3 separate regions of the Homo sapiens genome follow, and regions 1 and 2 are each linked to region 3. The links come from fine-mapping of genetic effects on gene expression. A gene starts in region 3. Each other region holds a variant in brackets. All regions are shown on one strand. Distances are between the middles of the regions.

What was found. PIP is the estimated chance that this variant, and not a neighbour inherited with it, causes the effect. A credible set is the group of variants that fine-mapping cannot tell apart.
Region 1: its variant is the best candidate, but not a certain one, in a credible set for the expression of BBS4 in stomach (GTEx, PIP 0.72).
Region 2: its variant is the best candidate, but not a certain one, in a credible set for the expression of BBS4 in whole blood (TOPMed, PIP 0.83).

Annotation. Positions count from the first base shown.
Region 1 is chr15:72,702,070-72,712,037 of GRCh38, forward strand. BBS4 (Bardet-Biedl syndrome 4) reads left to right here. Exons shown (of 16, transcript NM_033028.5): 3 at 7,631-7,710. Among named protein-coding and RNA genes, the nearest start is that of BBS4, 21 kb to the left of the region's middle. RefSeq lists a silencer at 4,315-4,515. The variant T/C (reference allele first, on the strand shown) is at 6,904.
Region 2 is chr15:72,750,946-72,761,063 of GRCh38, forward strand. It overlaps ADPGK (ADP dependent glucokinase), which reads right to left. Exons shown (of 7, transcript NM_001365225.1): 4 at 9,462-9,582; 5 at 5,306-5,502; 6 at 4,611-4,709; 7 at 349-1,950. The coding sequence ends at 1,396. Among named protein-coding and RNA genes, the nearest start is that of ADPGK-AS1, 27 kb to the right of the region's middle. The variant C/T (reference allele first, on the strand shown) is at 6,936.
Region 3 is chr15:72,681,068-72,691,185 of GRCh38, forward strand. BBS4 (Bardet-Biedl syndrome 4) reads left to right here and starts at 5,140. Exons shown (of 16, transcript NM_033028.5): 1 at 5,140-5,184. The coding sequence starts at 5,161. HIGD2B (HIG1 hypoxia inducible domain family member 2B) reads right to left here and starts at 5,115. Exons shown (of 3, transcript NM_001350932.3): 1 at 4,751-5,115.

The DNA of each region.
Region 1 (9,968 bases), 21 kb after region 3:
TCTCTTGACCTCGTGATCTGCCTGCCTCGGCCTCCCAAAGTGCTGGGATTACAGGCGTGAGCCACTGTGCCTGGCCGCTTTAAAATCATTAATGTTGCGTTGCTCAGTTATGTCTAATTGACAGCCCAAACATTTACATTGTAATATTAGAAAATCCTTTATGATTGGGCAGAAACTTGGTTTAATGTGTCACCTTGGAGACCTGGGTTATAGTCCTGCCTCTTCCATTAACTACTTGTTGAATGTGGACAATTTACTTAACCTTTAGGGCCTTAATTTCCTCCTTTATAATGTGAGAATGTTCTCTGAATTGCATAACTCACTGGCCTTACGTGACTATTCAGTGGAATAATAAGAGAGAAAAACTTTGAGATACATGCACACACACCCTTAAGAAGGATATAATTGTTAAATTTTGCTTTGAGGAAATAAAATAATCTAAGCTATAAAGTAAAACCATAATTAGCTAATCTTTTATATGACTTTTTTCTTCCTCATTTCAAGCTAATGAGAAGCAAACAAACTGGATAGCAGCAATATAATTAAAAAATTATAGGCCAGCTTCTAGCATGTATTCTTGAGTCAATACTGACTCAGCCCAGTCTCTTCCTCTTCCTTCATCATCATTTATGTACCTGAACAGAGTAGATGTTTCTCTTGATCCTGGGCCTGTTCGCCCTCAGATCCATTCCTTGCCTTCTCTTCTCTTTTTGGTATAGTGAGGAGCTGACTCTTTTTTTTTTTTTTTTTTTTTTTGAGACGGAGTCTCGCTCTGTCGCCCAGGCTGGAGTGCAGTGGCGGGATCTCGGCTCACTGCAAGCTCCGCCTTCCGGGTTCACGCCATTCTCCTGCCTCAGCCTCCCAAGTAGCTGGGACTACAGGCGCCCGCCACTACGCCCGGCTAATTTTTTTTGTATTTTTAGTAGAGACGGGGTTTCACCTTTTTTTAGCCGGGATGGTCTCGATCTCCTGACCTCGTGATCCGCCCGCCTCGGCCTCCCAAAGTGCTGGGATTACAGGCGTGAGCCATCGCGCCCGGCCGAGGAGCTGACTCTTGCAGCCTCCTTTTCTTCCCAGGCTTCCGTGTCAGCAGTTTCTGGCTGGATTAGCAAGTGGAGGAACTGGCAGGAGATTAGAAGGCAAGAGGAAAGAGAAGACAGGGCTTCCCTCCCCGACCTTCAGGCCTCAGAGTCGTAGTGGTTTTTTGCTCATGCAGACTTCTGATTTGTCTCACCATTCCCTGTTGGGCCTCTCATTTCTTCCATTGCCTGTTCTCTGCATTAAAGTCCTTGTGTTTCAAATCCTCAAGTGGCTTTTTGTTAGGCTTTGACTGATACAGGGCTCAAAATGATAGTAATGAAAATGTCTTACATTTATATTCTTTTCAAGATTTGTTATCTCTTTTGATACCCCAAATATCCTATTGAGGTAGAAAAGTGTTATAATTCCTGTTTGGCATGAGGAAATTAACATTTATTGAATGACTATTTTCAGATTCTTTGGATTTTCGGGTGAAAATTTTAGGGGGGATAAATGGAGGCCCAGAGAAGTGAAATAACTTGCCCTAGGCCCCATAGAAGGCTGGTATTGAATCAAGATTGAAATTCTGCATGTGAAAACTTTTACGTGCTACATGTCTGCTAGTCCTGGAAGAAATCCTTTCTTTGATGAGTATTTTTTTTAAAGGCTTTACTTGCAATATATTTACAAAAGCCTTAGTTATTTAGTAAATTTTTCAATGAAAAATCTGAACCATAATAATTTTCTGCTTAGTACTTATATAGCTAGCATACTATCCCTAGCATTAATCAAAGTGTCATGTAAAGGTTTGATTTTTGAGCCTAAGCAGAATTTGAAATTCTTCTAAGAGAATTTAGCACCTAGGGCAAACTACAGGGGAGAATTCTTGAGGTGTCATGTTTATTCACTTCTGGAATTGTTTAAAATATGTCAGGTGCATCCTTAAAGGGAGAAAGAAGGGGGAAGAGATGTTACAAAAGAGTAGAATGGGGCAAGAGAAGTGGCAAGGGAGTATTGTTGCTAGGTTGCCAGCCTTCTGCCCCCACTGTCTTGGTGATGGTGGAGGGGTAGTGTGGCAGCTGGGATATGAATGAGGTCTTTTTTATAACTCACTAAAAGCCATTACCTTGTCTTCATCTCGTCAGCTGGCTACCTGACCTCTGTGGTAACATAGGCTCCTGAAATGTAGCATTGGAGATGATCACTGTGCTTTATTGCAAAATAGGGGAGACTCTGCTCTGCATTTACATGCTTATGTTTTGTGGAGGATCTTTCAACTAGTAATTCTCATAATACCTGTGAAAGCATATAAGAACCAGTATCTCCATTTTTAGGGGGAGTTGGAGTGAGCAATGATTTGGAATACCAGAAATTCAACTTATATATTTACAGGTAAAATTCTAATTGTAAATTCAGGATTCATAGATTCTAGGGATTTCTGAGGTATCCAGAATTCCTTCATCTTTGATGATAAGTAGATAATAATGGTAATAAAAATAACAGCAACAGGCCCAGCACAGTGACCCACACCTGTAATCCCAGCACTTTGGGAGACTGAGGCAGGTGGATCACTTGAGGTCAGGAGTTCAAGACCAGCCTGGCGGACATGGCAAAACCCCATTTCTACTAAAAATGCAAAAATTAGCTGAGCATAGTGGCATGTGCCTGTAATCCCAGCTACTCAGTAGGCTGAGTCATAAGAATCATTTGAATCTGGGAGGTGGAGATTGCGGTGAGCTAAGATCGCGCCACTGCACTCCGGCCTTTATGACAGAACTCGACTCCATCTCAAAAAAACAAAACAAAACAAAACAAAACAAAAACAAAATGCAAAAAAACAGCAACAATAATAGGTAACATTTCTTTAAGGCCTACTATGTACCAGGCACTATTTGAACCTCTTTATATATTAGGTAATACGATACAACTCTATGAGAATGAGTATTTTATTTCCTGACCCTTCTATTTAAAAGTAAAACCCCCCACCCGGCACTGTTTCTCTTTCCTGCTTTATTTTTCTCCATAGAAAAATATCACTCATAAGTGTAACATACTTTATTATCTGTCCTGTGTGGTAGTAGCCCCTGCCCTCAATTATAAACTCCATGAAATCAGGGAGTCAGTTTTGTTCACTGCTGTATTCCCAGTGCCTAGAACAGTGCCTGGAATCATGGTAGGTACCCAGCGAATATTGGTTGAATGAATGAGTCTTGGTTTTACAGATGAGGAAACTATAAATTTCCCAGGTCACACATTTGGTAATAGGACAGTTGTGTACACTGAAATGTTCTCTAAAATATTTGATGGAACGAAAATTAGCTTTTGGACAGCTACATCTCCAAGAGTGTGAAATGACCTTCAGCACTGGATTTGGTGGATTTTCCTTTTTCTAATCCCTAGAGTTCCATTTAATGAGCGTTTGGGTTCTTGAGCTACCTTACAAATTGAACACTTTTTTCTCCAGCTTTCACTCAAGAAACACAAAACATGGCTTGTCCTTTTTTTTTTTTTTTTTTTTTTTGAGACTGGGTCTCACTCTGTCACCCAGGTTGGAGTGCAGTGCACAATCATGGTTCATTGCAACCTCTGCCTCCCAGGCTCAAGCAATCCTCCTAACTCAGCCTCCTGAGTAGCTGGGACTACAGGCTTGTGCCTCCACTCCTGGCTAATTTTTTTGTATTTTTTGTAGAGATGGGGTTTGTCCAGGCTGGCCTTGAAGTGCTGGACTCAAGTGATCCGTCCACCTGGGCCTCCCAAAGTGCTGGGGTTACAGGCGTAAACCACTATAGCTAGCCCTGATTGTCTTTTATTGTGAGATTTTAATAACAGCTAAGACTTGAAAATTAACATTTTATAAATTTTCTTTTAGACTACTTAGTGATATACTAAGTATCTAAGGTTTGTAATACTTAGTATAAACTCAAAAGGGTTCAGTGCCTCATTCTCTTTTACTCTTTCCCTTTAGTAGATAGGTGACAGAGGACTGGGTCATGCAGTTGAGACTTGGTCCAAGATGACTTAGTAAGCTACTTGTCCCAGAACTATTTATTTATTTACTTATTTTTGAGATGGAGTCTCGCTCTGTCGCCCAGGCTGGAGTGCAGTGGTGTGATCTTGGCTCACTGCAACCCCCGTCTCCTGGGTTCAAGCGATTCTTTTGCCTCAGCCTCCCGAGTAGCTGGGATTATAGGTGCCCGCCACCACTCCCGGCTAATTTTTTGTATTTTTAGTAGAGACTTGGTTTCATTGTGTTAGCCAGGATTGTTTCGATCTCCTGACCTCATGATCCACCTGCGTGGACCTCCCAAAATGCTAGGATTACAGGCGTGAGTCACCACCCCCGGACCCTGGAACTATTTATGACGGTGCACTTTATGCACTTAACACACTCACATGTCTTTAAGCTTGGTGACTCGTGTGGCTTTTTCGAAGGAGATTTGATTCTGGAAGTGGTTAAGTAGGATGTGAATGGCTAAGGTCTGGTCATTGGTGAAGCCTAGGGGAAGAAAAGAAAGGAAACACAAGTCTTAGAAGAATTTCAGATCGGCCCCAACGACTAGAAGGGTGGTTCTACTAAGAAAATGTGTGTAGTCAGAAAATGAAGAGTCAGTTGCTTAAAATTTTACTTTTTTTCTTGTTCCTGGCATGTAAAGTCATATCCATACTTTCTGTTATAATTTCTTCTTACAAATTCCATTGATAATCCCTATTCTTGGATAGCAATGAGCAGCATTACTTCTTTTTTATTTTTTTAAAAAAATTAAATTTTTTGTTGAAATGAGGGTCCTGCTGTATTGCCCAGGCTGGTATCAAATTTCTGGGCTCAACTGATCCTCCTGCCTCAGCCTCCCAAAGCGCTGGGATTACAGTTGTGAGCCAGTGTGTCTGGTTGTACCTTTTAATTTTTGTGTTCAGGCAACATTAACTCTGAGTCACAGTAAGCTTTTTTTTTCTTCCTGTCATATTATGGACATAGAAGTTTTTTGGTTTTCTTTAGATTGTTTCTCCTTAGGTTGCAGAACATCAAGAAATGGATTACAGTCATTTTCCTCTCTTCCCCATGCTCTTCCCTTTCTTTTCCTTTTTTCTTTTCTTTTTTTTTTTTTGGAGACAGAATCTTGCTCTTTGGCCGAGGCTGGAGTACAGTGTCATGATCTTGGCTCACTGTAACCTCCCCGCACCAGGTTCAAGTGATTCTGGTGCCCAAGCCTCCCTAGTAGCTGGGATGTCAGGATGCGCCACCACACCCTGCTAATTTTTGTATTTTTTTGTAGAGATGGGGTTTCACCATGTTGTCCAGGCTGACCTCAAACTCCTGGACTCAAATGATCTGCCCTCCTCGGTCTCCCAAAGTGCTGGGATTATAGGCATGAGCCACCACATCTGGCCTCTTTTCCATTTTTAAAAAGGACTGTCTCCAACATATTAAAATTCACAAAAAATAATATAAACACACATGTACTCACTGGCTAGGCTTAATAAAAAACATTTAGTCATGTTTACTTTAAAGCTTTTTATTTTTTTGAGAAATAGGCATTAAAGAGTTGAAGTCTCCTTTCTGTCTTTTCATAATTCTGTTCTTCCCTCTTCCTTCCTTGAGATCTTCACTATTCTTGGGTTAATTTGGATCTTTCTACTCCTTGTTACCACAGAAAAGTAATTCTTAATGAATTTGACCATATTTTAAACTTCTGATTTCAGTGGGCAGGTAACTCATTTTATGGTTTCTGTATTGTGAGCCATTTTCAATGACTCAACTAGATTTTTTTCATCGTTGACTTCTCATTTCTGGGCAACAGCATAATGTTCTCATTTGAGCTATTTCTAAAGATTGTGTTTAACTATTTAAAATATTTGTGGTACTCTGATCATCAGATGTGATTTTTTTTTTTTTTTGAGACGGAGTCTCACTCTTTCACCAGGCTGGAGTGCAGTGGCGCGATCTCGGCTCACTGTAACCTCCTTCTCCCAGGTTCAAGTGATGCTCCTGCCTCAGCCTCCCAAGTAGCTGGGACTATTGGTGCGGGTTACCACACCCGGCTAATTTTTTGTATTTTTAGTAGAGACAGGGTTTCACCATGTTTGCTAGGATGGTCTCGATCTTCTGACCTCGTGATCTGCCTGCCTTGGCCTCCCAAAGTGCTGGGATTACAGGCGTGAGCCACTGCACCTGGCCAGAAGTGATATTAACTATCTTATATGTATATTTCTGTTGCGGGAAGTCAGGGGCCCCAAACGGAGGGACCGGCTGGAGCTGTGGCAGAGGAACGTAAATTGTGATTATTTCATGGACACTTACCAGTTCCCAAATAATATTCTTATAATTTCTTACACCTGTCTTTAATCTCTTAATCCTGTTATCTTCGTAAGCTGAGGATGTACCTCACCTCAGGGCCACTATGATAATTGTGTTAACTGTACAAATTGATTGTAAAACGTGTGTTTGAACAATATGAAATCAGTGCACCTTGAACAGAATAACAGCAATTTTAGGGAACAAGGGAAGACAACCATAAGGTCTGACTGCCTGTGGGGTTGGGCAAAATAGAGCCATATTTTTCTTCTTTGCAGAGAGCCTATAAACGGACATGCAAGTAGGGAAGATATCGCTAAATTCTTTTCCTAGCAAGGAATTTTAATAATACTCTGGAGAAGGAATGCATTCCTTGGAGGAGGTCTATAGGGCATGTCTGTCTTATGCTGTTGACATAAGGACTGAAATACACCCTGGTCTCCTGCAGTACCCTCAGGCTTATTAGGGTGGGGAAAAAACCCCACCCTGGTAAATTTGAGGTCAGATCAGTTTTCTGCTCTCAAACCCTGTTTTCTGTTGTTTAAGATGTTTATCAAGACAATTTGTGCACCGCTGAACATAGACTCTTA[T/C]CAGTAATTTTGCTTTTGCCTTTTGCCTTGTGATCTTTGTTGGACCCTTATCAGGAGTTTCTGATTTTGCCCTTGTCCTGTTTCCTCAGAAGCATGTGATCTTTGTTCTCCTTTTTGCCCTTTGAGGCATGTGATCTTTGTGACCTACTCACTGTTCTTAGGCCCCCTCCCCTTTTGAAATCCTTAATAAACACTTGCTTATTTTGCAGCTCAGGTGGGCATCACGGTCCTACCGATATATGTGAGGCCCAGCTGTGAAATTCCTCTCTTCGTACTCTTATTTCTTAGCCGGCTGACGCTTATAGAAAATAGAAAGAACCTACATTGAAATATTGGGGGCAGGTTCCCCTGATATATTTCCTTAGTGACATTCCTGCAATCTCCTTTAGAAAGTCTTTCTGTTCACCTTCTATAACCAGGGAAGGAGAGATTGAGAAGAGACGAAGGATGATTTTATGTTTTTCAGTCCCAGTCATTATTTGATGAGAAACTGATATTACAAGCTTTAAAAACTCAAGATATGTATTCAACATGTAGTAGTAGAACAAGTATCTTAGTTTAATAGTCTATAAATTTTTGATGCACTATAATATATTATTGTAGTCAGTAGCATCAAAATTTTAATGTGATATTGCAGTATGTTTATGGTTAGTTTAGACATGAGGACAGTGCTAAAGGAGAAAATCTAATGACTGTGTTGTTTGTTTTGTCAAAATATGCTGCCTAGCTCCAGAGTTTCCTATTTTGGAGAAGCAGAACTGGTTGATTCATCTTCATTATATCCGGAAAGATTATGAAGCCTGCAAGGTAAGAGATTGCCATAATAATAAAAATGAGAGGCAGGATGTTGGGTAGGCAACTAACAGTGCCTGCTAAACAGAGTGTGGCAGTTTATATCTCAGTGATAAAACATGAATTCCTTCTTCCCCATACTTCATACACTGGTTATCTTTTGCTATGGTAGTGATGTTTAACATACAACCTCAATATTTCAGTGGCCCCCAACAAACAAATATTAATTGCTCATGGGCTTTCAGATCAGCTGTGGGTTGGCTGGGTTTGACTGCAGGCTGTGGGTCAGGTTTAGGTGTGTTCCATGTGTCTTCTCATGTCAAGAGCAAACAACTCTCTTGGACATGTTGGTCTTCTGGTGGAGGCAGATGTTCAACTCAGCATATTAACTTTTTTATCTTTGGATAGATGAAAAATGGTATTTTGTCGAGTTTTTTTTTTTTTTTTTTTTTTTTTGAGATGGAGTCTCACTGTCACCTAGGCTGGAGTGCAGTGGCATGATCTTGGCTCATTGCAGCCTTTGTCTCCCAGGTTCAAGCAATTCTTCTGCCTCAGCCTCCCCAGTAGATGGGACTACAGATGAGTGTCACCATGCCCAGCTAATTTTTTGTATTTTTAGTAGAGATGGGGTTTCACCATATTGGCCAGGCTGGTCTCGAACTCCTGACCTTGTGATCTGCCCGCCTTGGCCTCCCAAAGTGCTGGGATTACAGGCGTGAGCCACCGTGCCCAGCCCTGAGTTTTATTTTTTAATTTCTCTCTTACTGCAAGGTTGATCATCATGTGTATATTTAAAAACCATTTGTATTTCCCTTTCTCTGTATCTTTGGTGACATACCATATGTGTTACAAACTTGCAGGCAGACAGTGGTAGTACTAACATGCAGAATGTATCCTTGGTGTCATCTTTTTTGGTATCCAGAGCTTTGTGACCCATCTAAGGTTTTTAATTTATACCCATGGCATTTATACCTATGGCAATGCACAGAACTAATTCATACTGGTATGACAAAGATTCATACCAGTTTTTTTTTTTCTTTTTTTAAGTGGAGTTTTGCTCTTATTGCCCAGGCTAGAGTGCAGTGGCGCAATCTCGGCTCACTGCAACCCCCGCTTTCCAGTTTCAAGCAATTCTCCTGCCTCAGCCTCCCAAGTCGCTGGGATTACAGGTGCCCGCCACCATGCCCAGCTAATTTTTTTTTTTTTTTTTGTATTTCTAGTAGAGGTGGAGTTTCACCATGTTGGTCAGGCTGGTCTCAAACTGCTGACCTCGTAATCCACCTGCCTCAGCCTCCCAAAGTGCTGGGATTACAGGCGTGAGCCACCGCACCCGGCCCATACCAGTTTTTTTTGACACCGCTGATCCGAAGGCAGATACCAGTATGAATCTTTTTTTTTTTGAGATGGAGTTTTGCTCTTGTCGCCAAGGGTGGAGTGCAATGGCGTGACCTCGGCTCACCACAACCTCCGCCTCCTGGGTTCAAGCGATTGTCCTGCCTCAGCCTCCTGAGTAGCTGGGATTACAGGCATGTGCCACCACGCCTGGCTAATTTTTTGTGTTTTTAGTAGAGATGGGGTTTTTCCATGTTGGTCAGGCTGGTCTCAAACTCCCGACCTCAGGTGATCTGCCCGCTTCGGCCACCCAAAGTGCTGGGATTACATGCGTGAGCCACCGCGCCTGGCCACCAGTATGAATCTTGAAAGGTTCTCTTTCTTTTTCATCTGTGATAATACTTGGAAATCTTATCACACTTTTCTTAGCTTGCCTAGTTAGATTTTAGACAGGGGTTGGCAAACTTTTTCTGTAATGGGCCAACAATATTTTAGGGTTTGTAGGCCACATACAGTCTCTACATCATATTTGTTATCTTATTTTTTATAACCCTTTAGAAATAAAAAAACCACTGTTAGCTTGAGAGCTGTACAAAAATATACAGGGCCTGTAAGCCCTGTAGTTTGCAAATCCCTGTTCTAGAAGAAGTAATCACAACAAGGGAGTTGAAATTTTAAGAAACTGAATGAACTAATACTTTACTAGGCATTATTAATACTCTAGGTTTTTTTACATATGATTCTTGTCCACGTCTGCTTTTTCATTACTATTTGTTTTCTTTTTTTTTTCAGACAGAGTCTCACTCTGTTGCCCAGGCTGGAGTGCAGTGGCGCTATCTTGGCTCACTGCAACCTCCGCCTCCTGGGTTCAAGCGATTCTCCTTCCTCAGCCTCCTGAGTAGCTGGGATTACAGACACGCACCACTACTGCCCGGCTAATT
Region 2 (10,118 bases), 70 kb after region 3:
TTACTTTGAAGGAGTAATCAAGCTTTCTTATCCAAAGCAGGGAAAGGGAGGTCATAAATGAAGAGCTTGAGGTAGCTTTGAGATTCCAGAAGCTGCTGTGGGCCCAGGGGAAATGAAGACCCCTGAACTAGGCAGGCCCACCACCAGCTGCCATGTTCATACTGCCCTCCCAACAAGCTGAAAAGGCTCACCATGCTCTCAAACTGCTATGCTCCAATTCAGCTTTAACTGGGCTACTTCATACTAGTACTTTGTGTCACTTTCAACCCCACAGGACAAGCCTATAGCTCAGGCTCAGCATGAGGGACTGCAAGCACCTCAAGAGCAAAGTAACATGCACATCACAAATGAAGATCAGAATGATTTTTATCTTATCTGGTTCCAGAGTGGTGATGGAGACAAAAATCAATTACAGACAGAATTCCTGAAATGTAAATTGTTTTTAATATATTTAAGAGCACACAGAAGTCTTGATTTATAAAAAAATAAATATATAACATGACAAATTTACTGATGATCCTGGAGCTCTGAGGTCAAACTCTTTAAATGATCAGTGAAAACATAAAACATCCATGATCTGTTAACACACACAGGAGCATATTCCAGTTGTAAAAAACAAATTCCTTGAAGGCTCAGAACGAACAAAAATCAGTCTTTATGGCAGAAAGCACATCCAAAGCTAGGCAATGAAGTTCAGCCTGGGCCACGTGAACCTTTCACCAGCCAGCCTATAACCTATGGAGCCAGGACAGGAAAGCATGATCCTTCAGCTCATGACGCCACCCAGGCTTCCAGACAACTGCAGAATGAAAGAGTCCCTCAGAGGCTCCCCAGCCCCTGCTGCCATCATAAAGCACGGGAGGGATTGTTTTGTCCTTAGCGGCTCTGTCCTAAATTTGAGAGCAGGAGACTGAGAAGGTTATGCTCATTAAATATTGTCATTGTAACACGGAATGGAAATCATGATCCTTGCCCATGGGCACTGAGCTGAAAGAAAGAGGAACCTCACATGAGGCTTTCCTAGAGACCAGGATGTTGGGTGAGTGGGCGTGCACTTCTCAAGTGGGCAAGGAAGAACTGCTTTTCTCCAGCTGACATGCTCTCAGGGGTGAAGAAGTTTAGCTTAAAATACCTGATGGCGCTGCATAAACTGGGGATTTGGGAACTGAGTTTTTAGCTCTGTGACACACAACATAAAAAACAAAAATCCAGTCTCATTAGCTAAATTCGGATTAAAATCTGAAATGTTTTTATGGAGTTGCCAACAGGCTGGAATGTACCTGATACAGTTTAATCTGCTTTTATTTCTTTGGCTGTCTTCCAAACCACTTTCTTCCTGTAATTCTTAAGTTGGCTAGTTCTCCTTCCTCAGAAAAATTACCCCTAAGAATCTTCCTAATAGTGAGGGTGTACTTCCGAATAGAAGAGTCCTTCGGCTGAAATGGCATCTCCAAGGCCTACAGTTCGAATGGGGTCTTTACACACCAATACTGGTGTGAAGTGGAAGGATATTCCCTCTCTGTGCCATTCTACTACTGGCTTGTTTGGGTTTAATACAATCCTGGAGCCTGCCTCCGAATGGGAAGTCATGAACTCTTGGGGTGCCCTCAGAGACACTCGGCTGGTGTCTATGGTTTCTGTGGCGCAGGCCTGTGTCCCAGCCACACGAGCTCCTGCAGCCACGGCTGCCAGCTGGTTGGCCCAGTGTCCATCCACAGTTGCCAGGATGTGGTAGACCAGCGTGTGGAAATGGATCCTGGTGAGATCCGAGGCTCTGCTTTTACTCCTCCCATGTTCTTTCAAGATCCAGAAGAGGATGTCACTGACCATGCCCACATCAGGAACACCGTTCCAGGAAGAGAGAGAAGAGTGAGGTCCAGAGGCTGACTGGGTGAGAAATAACAGCTCCTGTTCATTCAGCCCAAGGGAAGTCACCGCGGGAAAGACCTGCTAACAAAAACAACAACAGGTATCTTTCTGATGGAGATAACCTGGCTCCTAAGATGTCTTATGACACAGCCAGTGACTAAATGACAGGGAACACAGGCAGGCAGCTTTCTTCCTTGATACAGGACTCCCTGGCCCTGAAGTCACTGTTTTAGCTATCACACCCCTATCTTCACCTTCATCATCATTTGGGAGAAACTGGAAAGCTGCAGTAACATTGTTTCAGATGCAGTCTTTTGTGATATGCCACTGTAAGACAAAAGGCAGAGGTGTCTATATTTTGTGTTTCTTTCCATGGTCCCTAGCTTTTGCCACTGCACACATAGGAGATACTCTTACCACTGATGGGGCATGGCTCTCAGTTCCTGAATGTCAGCAGTATTAGACCAGTAAAATGGAGACCTCAAGCAACATACTGTCAGGGTTATAATGATTTTTTTTATACAAAACACCAAGAAGCAAAAAGCATACAGTTTCATGTTAGAGCTAAGCTTTTTAAAAGCAGGTGTGGGTTAGGAAGACTGTCTGAATTTAGCAATAACACTGTAAGAAAAAGATTACCAAACAGGTGCCCGTGTTTTCTGTCTGATGGGGAACCACAATATCCACCTCCCTGTCTTTCTTACTTAGCACTTCCCTCCTTAGAACCAGAGAACCACACTTAAGGTAACAATTTTTGCAGGAGAGAGGAGTCCTTGTATGTATGTGTGCATGTATAAAATGGTTTTAAAAATTTAATGGCCTACATCTTTGTTGGAGCAATAGCAGCTTTCCTTCACTGCATGTTCTTCTGTGTCAGGCACTGAGCTAAAGGCTTTATTTCATCCAATTCTTACTGTAATCTTCTGAGGGAAGGAGGGACTGCCTCCATTGTACAGACTAAGCCTCAGAAGGGTTAAGTAGACAGTTACAGAGAAAATGAAATAGAAATGGCTCATTTTTTTAAAGGTGAGAAGAAAAACCCAAACAAAAGCTATACTGAAAAACACCAAGAGTGAACCCAAGTGTAAACTATGGACTTTGGGTGCTGATGACGTGCCTGTGTAGGCTCACTAGCTTAACAAATGTACCACTCTGGTGCAGGCTGCTGGTAGTTGGGGAGGCTTGTGTGTGAGGGGACTGGAAGTATATGGGAACTCTCTTGGATTCTGCTCTATTTTGCTATGCACCTAATATTACCATAAAAAAAAAATGAAGTCTATCAAAAAAAAAAAAAACAAAACCAACGACAGTCAGCCCTCCATATCCATGGCTTCAACCAACTTCAGATGGAAAACAGAGTATTCAAGGATGTGGAACCTGCAGATAGGGAGGGCCAACTTGTCTAATCCACAGATTCCACAGGGCCAACTGCAGGACTTAACCATCTGCAGATTCTAGTATCTGGGAAGGGTTCTGGAACCGCCCCCGCCGCCCCACACACCGCTGATGACGAGGGATGACTGTATACTGAAATACCATTTTTTCATCTGTCAGACTGATATAAATGCAAATTTTAACATTCTGGTAGCAAGGATATGAGGGAACAAGTATTTGTAATTATTGCCAGTGGGAAGTAAACTGGTATAATTCTTATGGAGGGCAATCTGGCAATCTCAAAATTACAAGTGCTTTTTTATGCTCCAGTCCAGCTGTTCTACTTCTGAGACTTTCTCCTAAATATGGACTTGTTCACAGGCAAAACAAAATCATGTATCAAGTTGTTCACTGCAGCACTGTGTGTAACAGCAAAGGGCAGTAAATAACCAATATGTCCATCCAGAAGGTTCAGGTTAAGTAAACGGAGGTACATCTACACATTCATTTTAACCATATGGCTATGAAAAGACAGAGGATACTCTCCATGTTAGTGATGCAGGAAGATCTCCAAGATATATTTAGTGAAAAAAAGAGCAAAGTGAAGAACAGAGTATTCAGTAGGCTATGCTATCTTTTTGGGTAAAAAGGGATGGAAAACAAAATCAGGATATATTTCTGTATTTTCTTATACTTGTACAAAAGAACTCTGGAAATAAACTGATGAAGGGTGCAAGTAGGGAAGGGGAGGAAGTAGAAGGGAGACTTCATTGTATATCTTTTCATAGTTTTTGGGTATTTTTTAACCAAATGAATATATTACCAATTAAAATTAGGTAACACTAGATTGCCAGGTGAGGTAACTTGCCTGAGTTCATGAAGCCCGTGAGTGCAAGGCTGGCATGCGAACCCAGGTCTCCAGAGCTTGTGTTCTGAAGCTTCACCTGCTCAGATTTATACTAGTCAATGCTGCTGCCCAGAGGCAGGCACTGAACACCCAGATGCCTGAGGAAGGAGGGAGGTTCCCTCAAAGTTTCTTTGCTTTGAGCTTCTTGAAGTTCAACTGAAAGCAGCTGAGCTGGGCTTTCAGTTTTTTCCATTCACTTTCAACTTTTCCATTCCAGAGGAGAAATATGATCAACAATCTGTCAGTTACACTGCCATAACTTTAACCTAGTAGGAGATACTGCTGTTTCAGAACAGTCCTGGATCCTTATTTGGATCTCCATGGACTTGGGTCTGAGTGACACAAACCTACATGTCAGTGAGCCAGTCCCTGAGCCCAAACAGATGGTCCCACTGCACAAAAAAGCTTCTCTGCAAGGCTCTATGAGGATCAGGGCCAAACGATGGTCCCATGAGGTTACCTGATGGACAATGCTGCTCATGAGCTCCCTGTTAGTCATACTGGCCAGCTCTAGGTGAACTGGAATACCAGTGGGGATGTCAGAAATGGAGGTTACAACCTGCAAAGAGAAGAAGATAAGCACTGCCATTAGAAATAGAAGGAAGTCAAGAAAGAGGGAAGAAAAGATCAGATCCTGAGAGGCGGTTCCTCCTGGTAATGGCCTTCTTTGCATGCTCACGGGAGCTACAAGCAATGTGGGTCCCCACCACCTCTGTGGACAAGGGACACTCTTCCCACCAGGGAAGACTAGGCTGTGCAGAGCCATCAGGGATACAGAATCAGAGATGGCAGTTCACTTCGACTGCTGTACGAATCTGTAGGAGTTGCAGCATAGCTGATGTGAAGTGAGATGATACAAATAACACAAAGGACACAAACTACAAACCCTGCAGCTTGCAGCCATGGTCGGTTTAGCACAGGATGCAGAGGCTCAGGCAAGAAGATGTTCTGCCCTGTCCTACTCAAGCTGCTGCCCACATCTGAAGGGATACAGTGAGGTGCCTCACTGCAGCAGGAGGCAAGCTCCACAGCCAGCTGCCAAGATATGTCCCTGGGAGGCCAGGACCTAAGACAAGGCAGCAGATGCCAAGAGAGGCTGGAACCTGAAGAAAACCACCAGCTGAGATCTGTGAAATTCTGTAACAGTGCCATTACCTCCAAGAGTCTCTTCCTCTGGAGCTCCTTGCTTTGTCCCTCCATCATGTGCAATCCAGAGAGGACCACCAGGTCTGGCTGAAACTCCTCCAGGCTAGACACAAACACCTCCAGCATATTCATGGCCCCGTTGGAGAGGTCGTGAGAGAAGATGAATCGGTTGGCATGGGGAGCTTTTAACTGGCCCCACTCCTCCCCTGGAAAAACCCAGTCAACACAATGGGAAGAAAAGGAAGAGGCTTTAGGTCTCCTAGCTGTGGGGGCACTTTCAGGCACCTCACAGGAGCCTTGGCTCCAAGCAGGCTGGTTTCTGGCTGAGGAGACCCCAGCAACAATGGCCTAAGGTCAGCATGGCACTGCAAGAAACAAACCAAAAACCTAAACCCAAACCCAGCCAAGAAACAGAAACATAGTATGGGTGCTATATGCCTTTTTCAAGGTAATTAGCTCCCCCTGAGTCCCAGGAGAGCCCTACTTGAGCTCTCAAACACAGGAGAGACAGTACAGAATGGCAGCATGACTTCCAAATACCAGCATACAGTGTGCAGCACGCACGCCCTGCAGACAGTATAGGCTGTCATTGTTTAAAGCACATTCTTCCTCACAGCATTGCCCTGAGCATCTTTCATTCAGTTGGAACTTAAGCAGGCTGAATTTCTTCCCAACAGCCAAGCTCACTGCATCTCCTCTTCCCTGCTGCCCATCAGTGGTTTCTGGGCACCTGATCCAAAGGATCAGACTATCTAGCTGCTCCAGTTGCTTCTATGTGAGTTGCTTTAGAGGAATGACTGTTTAAAGACCCAAGTTCAAGTGCTAGTTCCTCCCTAAACATGAAGCCTTTCCTAATCCTACCACCCCTAAGCAGACTTGATTACCTCCTTTCTGGGGCCACCACTGTACCCTAATACAGGACTGAGGCACATGATTTTGCAATTCCTTTTTCTTTTTTCCTTTTTTTTTTTTTTTTTTCTTCTGAGATGGAGTTTCACTCTGTTGCCCAGGTTGGAGCGCAATGGCGCGACCTCAGCTCACTGCAACCTCTGCCTCCCAGGTTCAAGCGATTCTCCTGCCTCAGCCTCCCGAGTAGCTGGGATTACAGGTACCCGCCACCACGCCTGGCTAATTTTTGTATTTTCAGTAGAGACGGAGTTTCACCATGTTGGCCAGGCTGGTCTTAAACTCCTGACCTCAGGTGATCTGCCTGCCTTAGCCTCCCAAAGTGCTGGGATTACAGGCGTGAGCCACCATGCCCGGCCTGCAATTACTTTTTCCAAGTGTCTATCTCTGGCAGTAAACTGTGAGCTGAGGGCAGGGCCTGTGTCATCCTCTGTCGTATTCCTTCTGCATCATGCTGTGTCTGGCATATAGCCATGGGAATGAATTAACAAAAGAACAAGCAAATAAGAGAACAGACTGATGACCTAAATGCCCATGACAACAAAAAATATGGGTATGAACCCCAAATCCAACATTTTGCAAATCAACAAAGACTCTGTACGATGGGAAAAATACATTACATTGACATTCTCCAGAGAGCAAGACGTGGACTCAACCCTTGAATAGTGACACTGCTAGGAAACACGACCTAACTGAACCTAGGAGAAAGGAGCCACACTGTATTGAAAATACA[C/T]TGATTTCTTCAGGAAGTGACAGAGGCAAAAATAAACAGGCTCTTCTGCAAGGCAAGGATGAGAAGAACCGTGCAGAGCTGCTTGCTGTTTCCACAGGAAACAAGGCAGCAGATGCCAAGAGAGGCTGGAACCTGAAGAAAACCACCAGCTGAGATCTGTGAAATTCTGTAACAGTGCCATTACCTCCAAGAGTCTCTTCCTCTGGAGCTCCTTGCTTTGTCCCTCCATCATGTGCAATCCAGAAAGGACCACCAGGTCTGGCTGAAACTCCTCCAGGCTAGACACAAACACCTCCAGCATATTCATGGCCCCGTTGGAGAGGCCATGCAGGGGGCAGATGCAAATGGATCTAATTCTGCCTGTAATGGTAGTTAGCGCCCCTCTTTCCTCACAAAGTGTTGTATTCATTCCTGTAAGCAATCTCTTCTCAATGTATCATCCTGCCCTCAGCCAGTAAGTCAGCAAAACCTCTGCGTAGTGACTCACTGGATTCCCAGCCCAAGCCTGACAATGGGCTTCTCTGGGGAGATCTGGTAAGAGAGAATGTGGAAAAAAAAATGGACAAATCCCTTGGAATTTCCCTATTGAGGTCAGAGACAAGCTGGGAATGGATTTCTGTTGAGAGAGCTGAGCCCAGGGCTACTGCCACTAGACTAGGCTCCCTCCTTGGACCTAGGAAAATGTCACCTCACAAAGTTTAATGGAAGTCCACTGCTTTGTATGCAGAAGAGGCATAGGAAAGAAAAACTGAAGTGTGAAGCTTATAAACCCAAGGATGGAGACACTCTCTTTGTGCGGTGAACTGTGCTGTCTCCTTAACTACATACGAGGCACAGCTGTCCAATACAACATCAAAGTCTTGCTGAAGACGTAAGACTCTCCACTCTGTAGTCACCAGGAAAAATGACAAACCAGGAATCACAAAGGTCCCCAGTTCCTGCTGTGGGTGCCAAAAAAACTGACACGAATCTGGAACTCATGGCAGCAATACCTCAGGGGCTCATCTTTAGCAATTCCAGACCCTTCCAGTCCACAGTCAGGTCATTCTTTTATTTATTTATTATTATTATTTTTTGAGACGGAGTCTCGCTCTGTTGCCCAGACTGGAGTGCAGTGGTGCAATCTCAGTTCACTGCAACCTCCGCCTCCCAGGCTCAAGCAATTCTCTGCCTCAGCCTACTGAGTAGCTGGGATTATAGGCGCCCGCCTCCACACCTGGCTAATTTTTGTATTTTTAGTAGAGACGGGGTTTCACCATCTTGGCCAGGCTGGTCTTGAACTCCTGACCTTGTGATCCACCCGCTTCAGCCTCACAAAGTTCTGGGATTACAGGCATGAGCCACCACGTGCGGCCAGGTCATCTTTTCATCCAAGCTGCTCACAATGTTTCCGCACACCAACCAATCTCTTAATCCTTACCACAATGATCAGGCAGTAAAAACTATTACTCTTACTTCCCATTTGGGAAAACTAAAGCTGAGAAACTCAAAAACTTGTGTAGCATTAAGTATGAATTGCCTACGTCAACGCTGTGTCCCTAATTTTCAGACCCTATCCTTCTTTAATTCCCAACTGATTCTAGTAAGCACCCGAAAGAGAACCAGAACATGTTACAACTCTTTTTTCTACCTGGAGAAAGGCATAATTCTCAAGAAATAACATAGTTCATATCTTATGTTAAAGTTAATTACTCTAGTAGAGAAGATTCTCTTAATTGACTTGGAAGTAGTTCACTGAAGAGTATTAAGTGCTGCTTTAAGGTACCAATTAGTCTGTTTAGATGCTTGAGTCTTTAATGTGTATTAACAATGTGTTGAATCAGAAACTCAAGAGTCTGAGTTCTGAGCAGAGGGAAAATTACAGCAGGAAATACACAGGATCAAAGTATGTCCAAGTATTTAATATTCTCTCAGAAACCAGATGCCTAATCTACGTAACATATAAAATCTGCTGGGAAGAGGGGATGGGATGCAGTGGATGTGGATTTATTAACATTAGAACATCTGATGGGAAACAATATAGTGATGTTAAATACAAAACACTTCCATTCACACACCCAAGGAAAAATAAAATGCTCCAGAGAAACTTGCCAGAAGCTTGGAATCAACCCCAAGCAGCTTGGAAGAGTCAGTCAGAAAGGCCTAGGGCAGAATCCAGCACAGAGTTGAATGGATGCTACCTGCCTTTCTCTTGTCTTAGTCATAAAGGAAAACTTTATATATGTGTGTTTAACACGTTTTCACTTTTATTTGAGATGCTTGCTTTCCTATGACCTGATTTATCTTGGGTTCGGAGCAATTCTGCTTGTAGACCTGGGAATTTTCTTCCATGTTATAATACTCAGTCTCCCTTGAGACAACGGCCAGTATCAGCTCAGTAGAACCAATAGGTCAGGAAACTTTCAGTATGGCAAAAACAGGATCCTGCTAATTTACAAAGATAAATTTCCGGCACAGTCACACCCCAATCTGACAATACACAGCCCCTTGACTGGTCTTGCCACCATTACTTACTCATTTCCTTACCTGCTTGATACTCTAAAATGAGGTGGAACTCATCCACTTCCTGCAATGACTCTGGTGGAACAAAGACATTGTCATCAAGAAGCTCATGTAGCTTTGGACCAACTGGACCGCAAAGAAGAACCTGGAGGCAAGCAACACGAAGTCCATCAGGAGCCCCGTTCCTTTCCCCACAGAACCTCAACAGCACCCCAGGACAGTACATTCAGGCTGATTCTAATCATTTCAACAAAATATTGGAATCCAAATCTAATTTTGAAAGCTGTTGGTCTGGAGGTGTGCGGCAGAAGGCATGTCACCAGGGCTAAGGCCTCTGGAGGGTATGGCCATAATGTACCCAGAACTGAGAGGCTGACAAAAGAACTGTGTCACAGCCGTCAGGCACCTATGCAGCTGCTACATCTCATTCCCTCTGCTGCGGACTGCACGTTTGTGTCACCTCCCCAAATTTAGATGGTGAAGCCCAAACCCCCATGTGGCTTATTTGGAGATAGGGCTTTTGGAAGGTAATTAATATGAAATGAGGTCATAAGGGTGAGGTGAGGTCCTAATCAGATAGAACTGGTGGCCTTATAAGAAAAGAGAGAGAGATCAATCTCTCTCCCCCCACCGCATGCACCAAGGACAGGACATGTGGGAACACATTGAGAAGGTGGCCAC
Region 3 (10,118 bases):
GCTGTTGATACTCAGTGGGAGATACACCTAAACCACACAGACAGCATTATTCTGAAAAGGAGAAGTTGCCAGGGAGTGTGGACCAGTAGTCTCCGTGGCCCTGTACTCTCCAAGCAGAAGTGTAGACTTCTTCTTCCCTGTGACTAGCCTTCAGGTGTAATTTCCAGTACATAGTTCCTTATAAATTCTATAGCTCAGGAGAATAAATAAGAGGCTCCTTTTCCAGAAAATCCAGTATTGGTTTTCCTCCTTTGGAGGCGTAGAGTCAGAACTCTCATGGCATGGCAGGATCCATGGAGGTGGCCACATCTCCCTTTTTTCAGTGAGTATTAGATCCCACAAGACAACCGCACAGCTAAACATAATTAAAACTTAGGTTTTATGATATTTGTTCCTTTCCTAAAACCTTCAGTGACTCCTTATTATCCATAGGGAACATATAAGCTAAATAAATGTGAACTTTTTTCTCCAAGCAAAACATTCTCCCCAGTGAATAGAAAATCTTGTTTTCCTGTGTTACCTTGAACCAAAATTTTTTTTTTTTTTTTTTTTTTGAGGCAAAGTCTTGCTCTGTCGCCCAGGCTGGAGTGCAGTGGTGGCGCGATCTCATCTCACTGCAACCTCCACCTCCCGGGTTCAAGTGATTCTCCTGCCTCAGCCTCCCGAGTAGCTGGGATTACAGGCGCCTGCCACCACACCTTGCTAATTTTTGTATTTTTAGTAGACATGAGGTTTTGCCAGGTTGGCCAGGCTGGTCTCAAACTCCGGACCTGAAGGGATCCATCTGCCTACCTTGGCCTCTCAAAGTGCTGGGATTACAGGCATGAGCCACCGCACTTGGACTCCTTTAAAATTATTATTATTATTGAGACAGAGTTTCGTGCTGTTGCCCAGGCAGGAGTGTGGCACTACCTTGATTATAGACGCAAGTCACTGGGCCTTGGGATTATAGACGCGAGTCACTGGGCCCAGCTTTCTTTCCAGTTTTAAAGTATTATTTTTAATTATCCAAACTAAATGTGTAGTAAATACTCTTCTTATAAATCTTTGTTTTCTTGATTGCTTCCTTAGCATATAATTTCAGAAATAGAACTGATCAAAGGGTATGCACATTTTTAAGGATTTATAATGCCAGATGCCTTCCAAAAGATGTTAACAACTTATTGAACTGACAGTATATAAGGGTGCTATAGAGTAATTTATTTATTTGAAAAACAAATCTTTATTGTGTAGAAATATGTATTTTAAAAATCCCCCAGAAAAGATGCTCTTCTCTCATTTCCCCATCCTCTTCCTTTTCTTCCACACCTCTGATATGAAGGACATTATTATACCTTATTAAAACTTCATCCACACTAGGCATGGTGGCTCATGCCTGTAATCCTGGCATTTTGGGAGGCCAAGGCAGGCAGATCACTTGAGGTCAGGAGTTTGAGACCAGCCTGGCCAACATGGTGAAATCCTGTCTCTACTAAAAATACAACAATTAGCCAGGTGTGGTGGCTGACGCTTGTAATCCCAGCTACTTGGGAGGCCAAGGCACGAGAATCACTTGAACCTGGAGGTTGCAGTGAGCTGAGATCGCACCACTGCACTCCAGCCTGGGTGATAGAGCGAGACTCTGTCTAAAAATAAGATAAAATAAAATAAAATGAAAACTTCATCCAGATGTCTAGACAACACTTTAACTATGTATTCTTCTGTATTTGCAAGTTACATGTTCATATAGCCATCTACAGATACCAGTTAGCCTTTGTAATCCATTCCCCACTTAAGTTTCACCATCTACTGGCTTTTCTGTTAATCCCTTGAGGAAAGGTTTGGAATTGAGGAGTAAATCCTTTATAAGGAGAATGCTGCAGTCTATTCGCTATTCACCGCTGACCAAGCTGCCACCTGGCCCTCCTGACTGCAGCAGGCACCCCCAGACAGTCATGTAAATGGACTAGGCCTGAGTCTGTAGTTCTTTGCTCTGAAAAAGGAGACGTAATGGCTTCTACTTTTTATCATTTGGTGGAAATAATAGAGGAGTTTTTCTAGAATGTTTTTTGATCTGGTGGTTAAAGGGAACTTGGACATTTAGTCCCTGAAATAAATTGTTGCATCTTTGAAGGAAAAGATGAAAGTAGTTTCTTACACTTTAGTGAAGAAGCCTTTGGAAAATTTTGTTCTGGATGTTGTATATTCTCTGTAGAGGAGTGTTGGGGATTCCCCACATCAGCAGAACTAAAGGGTAACTGAAGAGAACAGGGAGTGACATGTCAGATTGAGAATCAGTCTTTTGAAAGTGGCAAAAAGAATATGTGTTAAAAGAAAAAATAGGGTAGAAGATAAAAAGAATAGGGCAGAAGATATTAGCTTCAATTCCTCCTTTTTTTTTTTTTTTTTTGATCCTTTGGAATGATTTCTTCCTAGACTGCCAGTGTTGCGTAGTAACCCCGCCCATGAAGAGGACTGGAATACTGAAAAACTGCATGAAACTAAGCGCTGTGGGTTGGGCGGGGTGGCTCACGCCTGTAATTCCACACTTTGGGAGGCCAAGTTGGCTGGATTGCTTGAGCTCAGGAGCTTGAGACCAGCCTAGGTAACATGATGAAACCCCATCTTTACAAAAGATACAAAAATTAGCTGGGTGTGGTGGCATGAAGCTGTAGTCCCAGCTACTCAGGAGGCTGAGGTGGGAGGATCACTTGAGCCTGGGAGGTAGAGGCTGCAGTGAGCCGTGATTGTCCCACTGCACTTCCGCCTGGGCAACAGAGCGAGATCCTGTCCCAAAAACAAAAAAACTAAGCACTGTGGATTAGAAATTAATAATTTTTCATCTTTATATCTTTTTTTTTTTTTTTGAGACAGTCTTGCTCTGTCTCCCAGGCTGGAGTGCAGTGGCACGATCTCGGCTCACTTAGGCAAGGTGTTTAATTAATCTCTGAAAAGTGGAGAATTTAGCACCAGGCATGGTGACTGGTGCCTGTAATCCTAGCTACTTGAGAGGATGAGGTGGAAGTGTTAAAGGTGGAGGGTGTCCAGGTTCTTGGTGTCTTGAAAAAAGAATTGGACAAAATGCACAAACAAAGCAAGGAAGGGACAAGGAATTTACTGAACATGAAAGTACACTCCAGTGTGGGAGCGGGCCTGAGCTTAGAAGTTCAGTGGCTCCGTTACAGAATTTTGGGGAGTTTAAATAACCCCAGAGGATTCCATGGTTACTTCGGGTATGCCTTATGTAAATAGAGAAGATGAAGTAAAGTTACAAAGACATTTATGGCCTATGCCCTATGGACAGAATATTACCTGTTATAGCTGAAGTGTGAATTGGCCTTATGTTCCCTACCTCCAGACCCTATTTTCCTGCCTCAGGAGGATTACTTGAGCCTAGGAGTTCAAGTCCAGTCTGGACATCAATAGTGAGACCCCTGCCTCTGAAAAAAAATTTTTTTGAGACAGAGTTTTGCTCTTGTTGCCCAGGCTGGAGTGCAATGGGATGATCTCAGCTCACTGTAACTTCCACCTCCTGGATTCAAGCAATTCTCCTGCCTCAGCTTCCCTAGTAGCTGGGATTACAGGAGCCGGCCACCACGCCCGGATAATTTTTTGTATTTTTAGTAGAGACAGGGTTACACCATGTTGGCCAGGCTGGTCTTGAACTCCTGACCTCAGGTGATCTGCCCACCTCAGCCTCACAAAGTCCTGGGATTACAGGCGTGAGCCACCGAGCCCAGCAAATTTTTGTTTTTTAGACGGAGTCTCCCTCTATCGCCCAGGCTGGAGCACAGAAATGCGATCTCGGCTCACTGCAACCTCTGCCGCTTGGGTTCAAGTGATTCTCCTGACTCAGCCTCCCGAGTAGCTGCGATTACAGGCGGGCACCACCATGCCCGACTAATTTTTTGTATTTTTAGTAGAGACGGGGTTTCACCATGCTGGCCAAGCTGGAAAATTTTATTTTTAATAAATGAAAGGCAGAGTATTTATCTGAAAAAAGTGGGAGACCAACAGTCTCATGGGATTGTTATAAAGATTAAAAGAGAGAGTGTTACTGAAATACTTAGAAGAGCTGTTATTCTATTGCTGTCCTTTCCCCTTGTATTTGGATAGATTACCGTACTTGTTTCTTCTATGTAACTCTAATTGTCAGTGGGGTTCTCCCTCTCTTAGAGGCCTGGAGAAACTTGTCTTAAATGCTTTCCCAGTTAATGAATTGGGAGAGGCAGATTTTATGTCTAAATTACAAGGGCGAGACTTAAAAGTATGAATTGGGGCTAATGTCAGTGCTCAGGTGCAGGGATCCTCCGTTTTGTTCATCACACAGCTCCCGGCACTTTAATAAATGAGGCTCAAAGAAACGACGGGCTTAGGTCATGCAGTAGTCAAATTCAGAACTCATGTTTGATTCCAAAGCCCACACGTTTTCCTAGTTTAGAAACACTAAACATTTAATTCACCGCACCGGGGGCCAGACAGGTAATGGAGAACGCCTTAAGTATGTTAGGAAGGGAAGTTATCTACAGTCGCAGCCGCTATTCAGATCTATTTCACTGCCTTGCAGAAAACGCCGACTGTCGTCTCTTTATCCCATGGCCGATTTCTTGTGAAATCTCCTAACTTTTAAATATTTCCAATCAAAAGACTGCCGTTCAAATGCAGCCCACCAGGAGCATGTTTGCAAACTCTGGAGTAAACAAGAGTGGGAAGCTGATAAGGTGAGTACCTCAGTTCGATAGTGACAGCCAAGAAACGGGGAGTTTTGTACCTAAGGCGAGAAAGAAATTCTCCGCCGAAATCTCCCGGAAGAAGGACTGAATTAAATGCAGATTAGAGTCAGGGCAGGGTAAGGTGGCGGGAGAACTAGGCTGCCATCCCAGGTGGCTGGCCTACCAGCCAGCGCGGCCGGAGGTACAGACCATGTACAGACCACGGCGAGGGGTGTTAGGGGCTTCTCGGGATAAAGGCAGCGAGTGGCTGCGCATTCCCTCCCCGACTCTTTCAGAGGTAAGCCTTCTGTGGAGCAGACCCTAATCCTCCCCCTGATTCCTTAGGTCACTCGGCGATTTACTTCCTTCCCCCGCTTCCTCACAGTCCTCCACAGCCCTACGACTTCCGCTTGCCTCGTCGTCTGGGAAACCGCCGACTTCCGGCCGCGCAGCGGTGGGCTGAGCTAAAATGGCTGAGGAGAGAGTCGCGACGGTGAGCGCCGAGATTCTCTTTAGTTGCCCGGCCGCAGGGCAAGGCAAGCTGGCGGGTGGCTTTTGTCCCATGCAGCGGTTCCTGGAGAGAGGCGGAGCTGGGTGCCGAGCGTCTCAGGGTGGGCGGGGCGACACGGTCCCCTTTTTACTGTCCCGGGAACTGGTCGCCTGGGGCAAGTCTGGATACTTAGCAGCACAGGTCCTGTTCTAGGACTGTAGTCCCTCTTGGGGTGCGCTGGACGGAGAAGGGAGACTTTTCACCAGTAATGGCTCTTACCGTAGTGCCATCTTTTTCTGTCTCGGGGGTTTGGAAGGTAATGACTAGCACTTGTGTAGACAGTTCCTGTTAATCCCGTGAATTGGGAATTTAACATGCCTGGAAGCTTGCAGCGTCACTGCCTTCTGCCAGTGGAGCGGGACTGTGTTTTTTCTGTGGTGATTAAGTTTAGGAAAGTACGGTTTTGGAATTCATCTGAAGGCTGAGTTGGGCGTTCACTCCACAGAACTGCTAATATAGAGGAACCCGATGAATTCAGGATGACCTAGTCGCTATTTTTTGAGGCATATATCTATAATTGGATCTAATTTCGGTAAAGTGCCAAGTGTGAAGCTTTGTTTACCTTGCTTTAGTGTTGGGTTTGAAAGCCTGTTCTGTCCATTTGTTAGAATGATTTTAGGTATTCGGAATTTATTGTCTTTCGAAAAACGCCCTGGAAAACAGTACAAATAGCAGCCTTTGGCTGTTTTACAACTTAGTTTTGGCTAAGCAGCAAGGTTAGTGTTATTGTTAGAGGGCCTTTTGTTTGTTTTCTACTCTCATTTGCAGAGTAGTCATATTATTCTAGTCTAATTAGAAAACTCTGAAGACAGAAACTTTTTTTTTTGAGACGGAGTGTCGCTGTTGTCGGCCCGGGCTGGAGTGCAATGGCGCGATCTCGGCTCACTGCAACCTCCGCCTCCCAGGTTCCAGCAATTCTCCTGCCTCAGCCTCCGGATTAGCTGAGAATACAGGCGCCTGCCACCACGCCCGGCCGAAACATTTTTATTAAGCTAAGAAATTTAAAATAGCTAGGCCGGACGCGGTGCATCACGCCTGTAATCCCAGCACTTTGGGAGGCCGAGACGGGTGGATCACTTGAGGTCATGAGTTTGAGACCATCCTGGCCAACATGGTGAAACCCCGTCTCTACTAAAAATACAAAAATTAGCGGGGCATCGTGGCGCTCGCCTGTAATCCCAGGTACCTGGAAGGCTGAGGCAGGAGAATCGCTTGAACCCCGGAGGCGGAGGTTGCAGTGAGCCGAGATCATGCCATTGCACTCCAGCATGAGCGACAGAGACAGACTCCTTCTCAAAAAAAAAGAAAGAAAAAACAGATTTTAAAATAATTAAATAGGCCAGGCTCAGTGGCTCACGCCTGTAATCCTAGCACCTTGGGAGGCTGAGGTGGGTGGATCGCCTGAGGTCAGGAGTTCGAGACCAGCCTGGCCAACGTAGTGAAACCCTGTCCCTACTAAAAAAATACAAAAAATTAGCTGGACGTGGTGGCGGGCGCTGGTAATCCCAGCTACTAGGGAGGCTGAGGCAGGAGAATCGCTTAGAACCCAGGAGGCAGAGGTTGCAGTGAGCCGAGATCGTGCCATTTCACTGCAGCCTGGGCATCCAGAGCAAAACTCCGTCTCAGAAAAAAAAAAAAAGTAAATAGCATGGTTAATGTTACTGGGTTTTAAATATTAAAAACATAGGAAAGAAAATACTTCCACTCCAGCCTGGGTGACAGAGCAAGACTCCGTCTCAAAAAAAAAAAAAAAAAAAAAAAGAAAATACTTCTAAGTAATCTTAAAGTGTAAAAGATAATGGGTAACATAACATTGCTACAAATATAGCTTATCCTCTAGTGCTCATCACAAGTGTTTGTGTAATAGAATATGAACTTGAGTCTGTGACGGCAGAATTGTCATGTACATTTGAATGTCTAATACTGTTTTAAAGAGAATAGCTTTTGTTTCGATATGACTTAGCAATTAAGCCTGAAGTTAACTGTTTTCATTGTTGTCAAATTTATTGCTAGTAGTGTTACGTTTATAGTAATTTTCATCTTTTCAAGTTACCAATGCATGGAAATGTGAATTTCTGTCCTTTTAGGAAGTGGTATTTTATCTTTTTTTTTTTTTTTTTTTTGAGACGGAGTCTCACTTTGTCGCCCTGTCTGGAGTGCAGTGGCGTGATCTCAGCTCAGTGGAACCTCTGCCTCCCGGGTTCAAGTGATTTTTCTGCCTCAGCCTCCCGAGTAGCTGGGGTTACAGGCCCTCACCACCATGCCTGGCTTATTTTTGTGGAGATGGGGTTTCACCACGTTGGCCAGGCTGGTCTTGAACTCCTGACCTTGTGATCTGCACGCCTCGGTCTCCCAAAGTGTTGGGATTACAGGCGTGAGCCATGGCCCCCTGCCTTATTTTTTAATACAATTAAAAGAACCCAGTAATCCTACTCCTAGACCTGTGTCCCACAGAAAAAAGTGTTAAACATGAGCGTGTAGTACTAGGGCATTCGTTGTAGTACTATCCGTAGTGGCAAAACGCTGGAAGCAAATTAAATGCCCATTAATAGGGTAATTGATGACTTCAGATATTTCCATACTGTGGAATATTATGCAGTCATTAAAAAGAATGTTACAACTAATTGCTTTTCCTCTCAGAAGCCCCTCTCTCTCACTAGAGAAAGCTGTTCTCCTTTCTTTCTTCTGCCTATTAAACCTCCATTCCTAAACTCAGAAAGAAAAAAAAAAAAAGAGAATGTTACGACTAATTGACTTGGAGGGACTTCCATGGTGTACATTTAAATAAAAGGTAGATGTGAAGTGGGGTATATTATGTGATCTTAATTTCATAACACAAAGGAAAACATATAGATCCGTAGATAAGGATATATGGATATGGAGGAGAGAAAAGGAAAAGACTCAAAACTCACAGAATTTTTGAAGAAATGTATAGCTAAAAATCTAAGAAGGCTACAGTCAAGGCCTTGAGGCCAGAAGACACCCCATCAAAACTGAGTAAAACTAGCCCAGTGTGGGACGCAGAAATTCTAGTATGCTACCAAAATTACTTACGGATTGCTACCAGTTCCTTAGAAGGAAAACTGAGGACTAATATTTGTATTTTCAGTATAGTTTAGAATTCTTAAAAAATGAGCAAACAGGCTGTACTTGGTGGCTCATGCCTGTAATGCCAGGACTTGTGGAAACTGAGGTGAGAGGATAACTTGAGTCCAGAGGTTTGAGACCAGTCTGGGCAACATGTTGGAGCCCCATTTCTACAAAAAACACAAAAATTAGCCAGACGTGGTGGCACGCGCCTGTCTTCCCAGCTACTGGGGAGGATCATCTGAGCCTGGGGGAAGTTGAGGCTCCAGTGAGCCATGATCATGCCACTGGACTCCAGCAGGGGCAGAGTGAGACTTTGTCTGAAAAAAACAAAAAATGAATGAGCAACTAACTCTGGCTTTCATGATTTGTGCTTATAAATCTTTTTATTTATTTATTTATTTATTTATTTATTTATTTATTTATTTATTTTGAGACGGAGTCTTGCTCTGTCGCCCAGGCTGGAGCGCAGTGGCGCGATCTCGGCTCACTGCAACCTCCGCCTCCCGGGTTCACGCCATTCTCCAGCCTGAGCCTCCGGAGTAGCTGGGACTACAGGCGCCTGCCACCACGCCCAGCTAATTTTTTGTATTTTTAGTAGAGACGGGGTTTCACCGTGTTAGCCAGGATGGTTTCAATCTCCTGACCTTGTGATCCGCCCGACTCAGCCTCCCAAAGTGCTGGGATTACAGGCGAGCCACTGTACCCAGCCTATAAATTTTTTTTATAATGCCCTGATTCCCATTATTTGATGTATTTGGATAAATATGTCATCCTGTAAATTGAAGGATTAAACTGATAAGAGCAGAAAACAGAAATTAGTACACTAGTTGATCTGGCTCAGATATAGTGCCTATGTATCAGGTGCTCCATGAATATTTGTTGGATGAATAAATGATCATAAAACTATATAAAAATGAAGAAATAACAGAATAAAATAATTTGTTCTATATAAATCCTATGAATGAGATTGAGTGGGCTAATAGAATCCTTTCCATCTCAAAATGTTCTGGAAAGTCTTGAGTAAAAGACTCATCAAAAAAATAATTCTGCTTTGTGCAGAAAGAAGGGTTGCTGACCTTTGAAGGTGCTTTTTGAGTCTTTAACATTCTTTAGTAGTATATTCCCCAAAGTTAAGAAATTCTAGTTAGATTTTAAAAAATTGAGTTAACATTTAAAAAACAGTTTTGTTGAGGTATAATACACGTACCATAAAATTTACTCAATTTAAGTACAAAGTTTGATCAGTTTTAGTAAATTTATATAGTTGCACAGCTGTCATCAGAGGCTGCTTTTAAAACATGTCCATCACTCCAGAAGGGTTCCTGTGTCAATGGAATTGCTGGGTTATATTGTTTAAGTATTTGTTTAAAAAAACAGAAACAAATCTGCCTAACTTCTGCAGGCTATATACGAGTTAACATTTCCATGAGCAATGCATGAGGGTTGTGATTTTTCCACATCCCTGTCAACACTTGGTTTGTCAGTTTGTTTTTATTTAGCTGTTGTAGTGGATGGGTAGTGATGGTGTATGGTGGTTTTAATTTGTATTTCCTTCATGAATAATGATATTGAAGATTTTTTATATGTTTATTTTCCACCCGTATCTCTTTGGTGAAATGTCTTTATAAATTTTTGTGAATTTTTAAATCAAGATCATTAACCAAATGAGCCCCTCATTTGGGCTCAAGTGATCCTTCCACCTCAACCTCCCGAGTAGCTGGGACCACAGGTGCAGGCCACGCTTGGCTAATTTTTGTATATTTTGTAGAGGCGGGGTTTTGCCATGT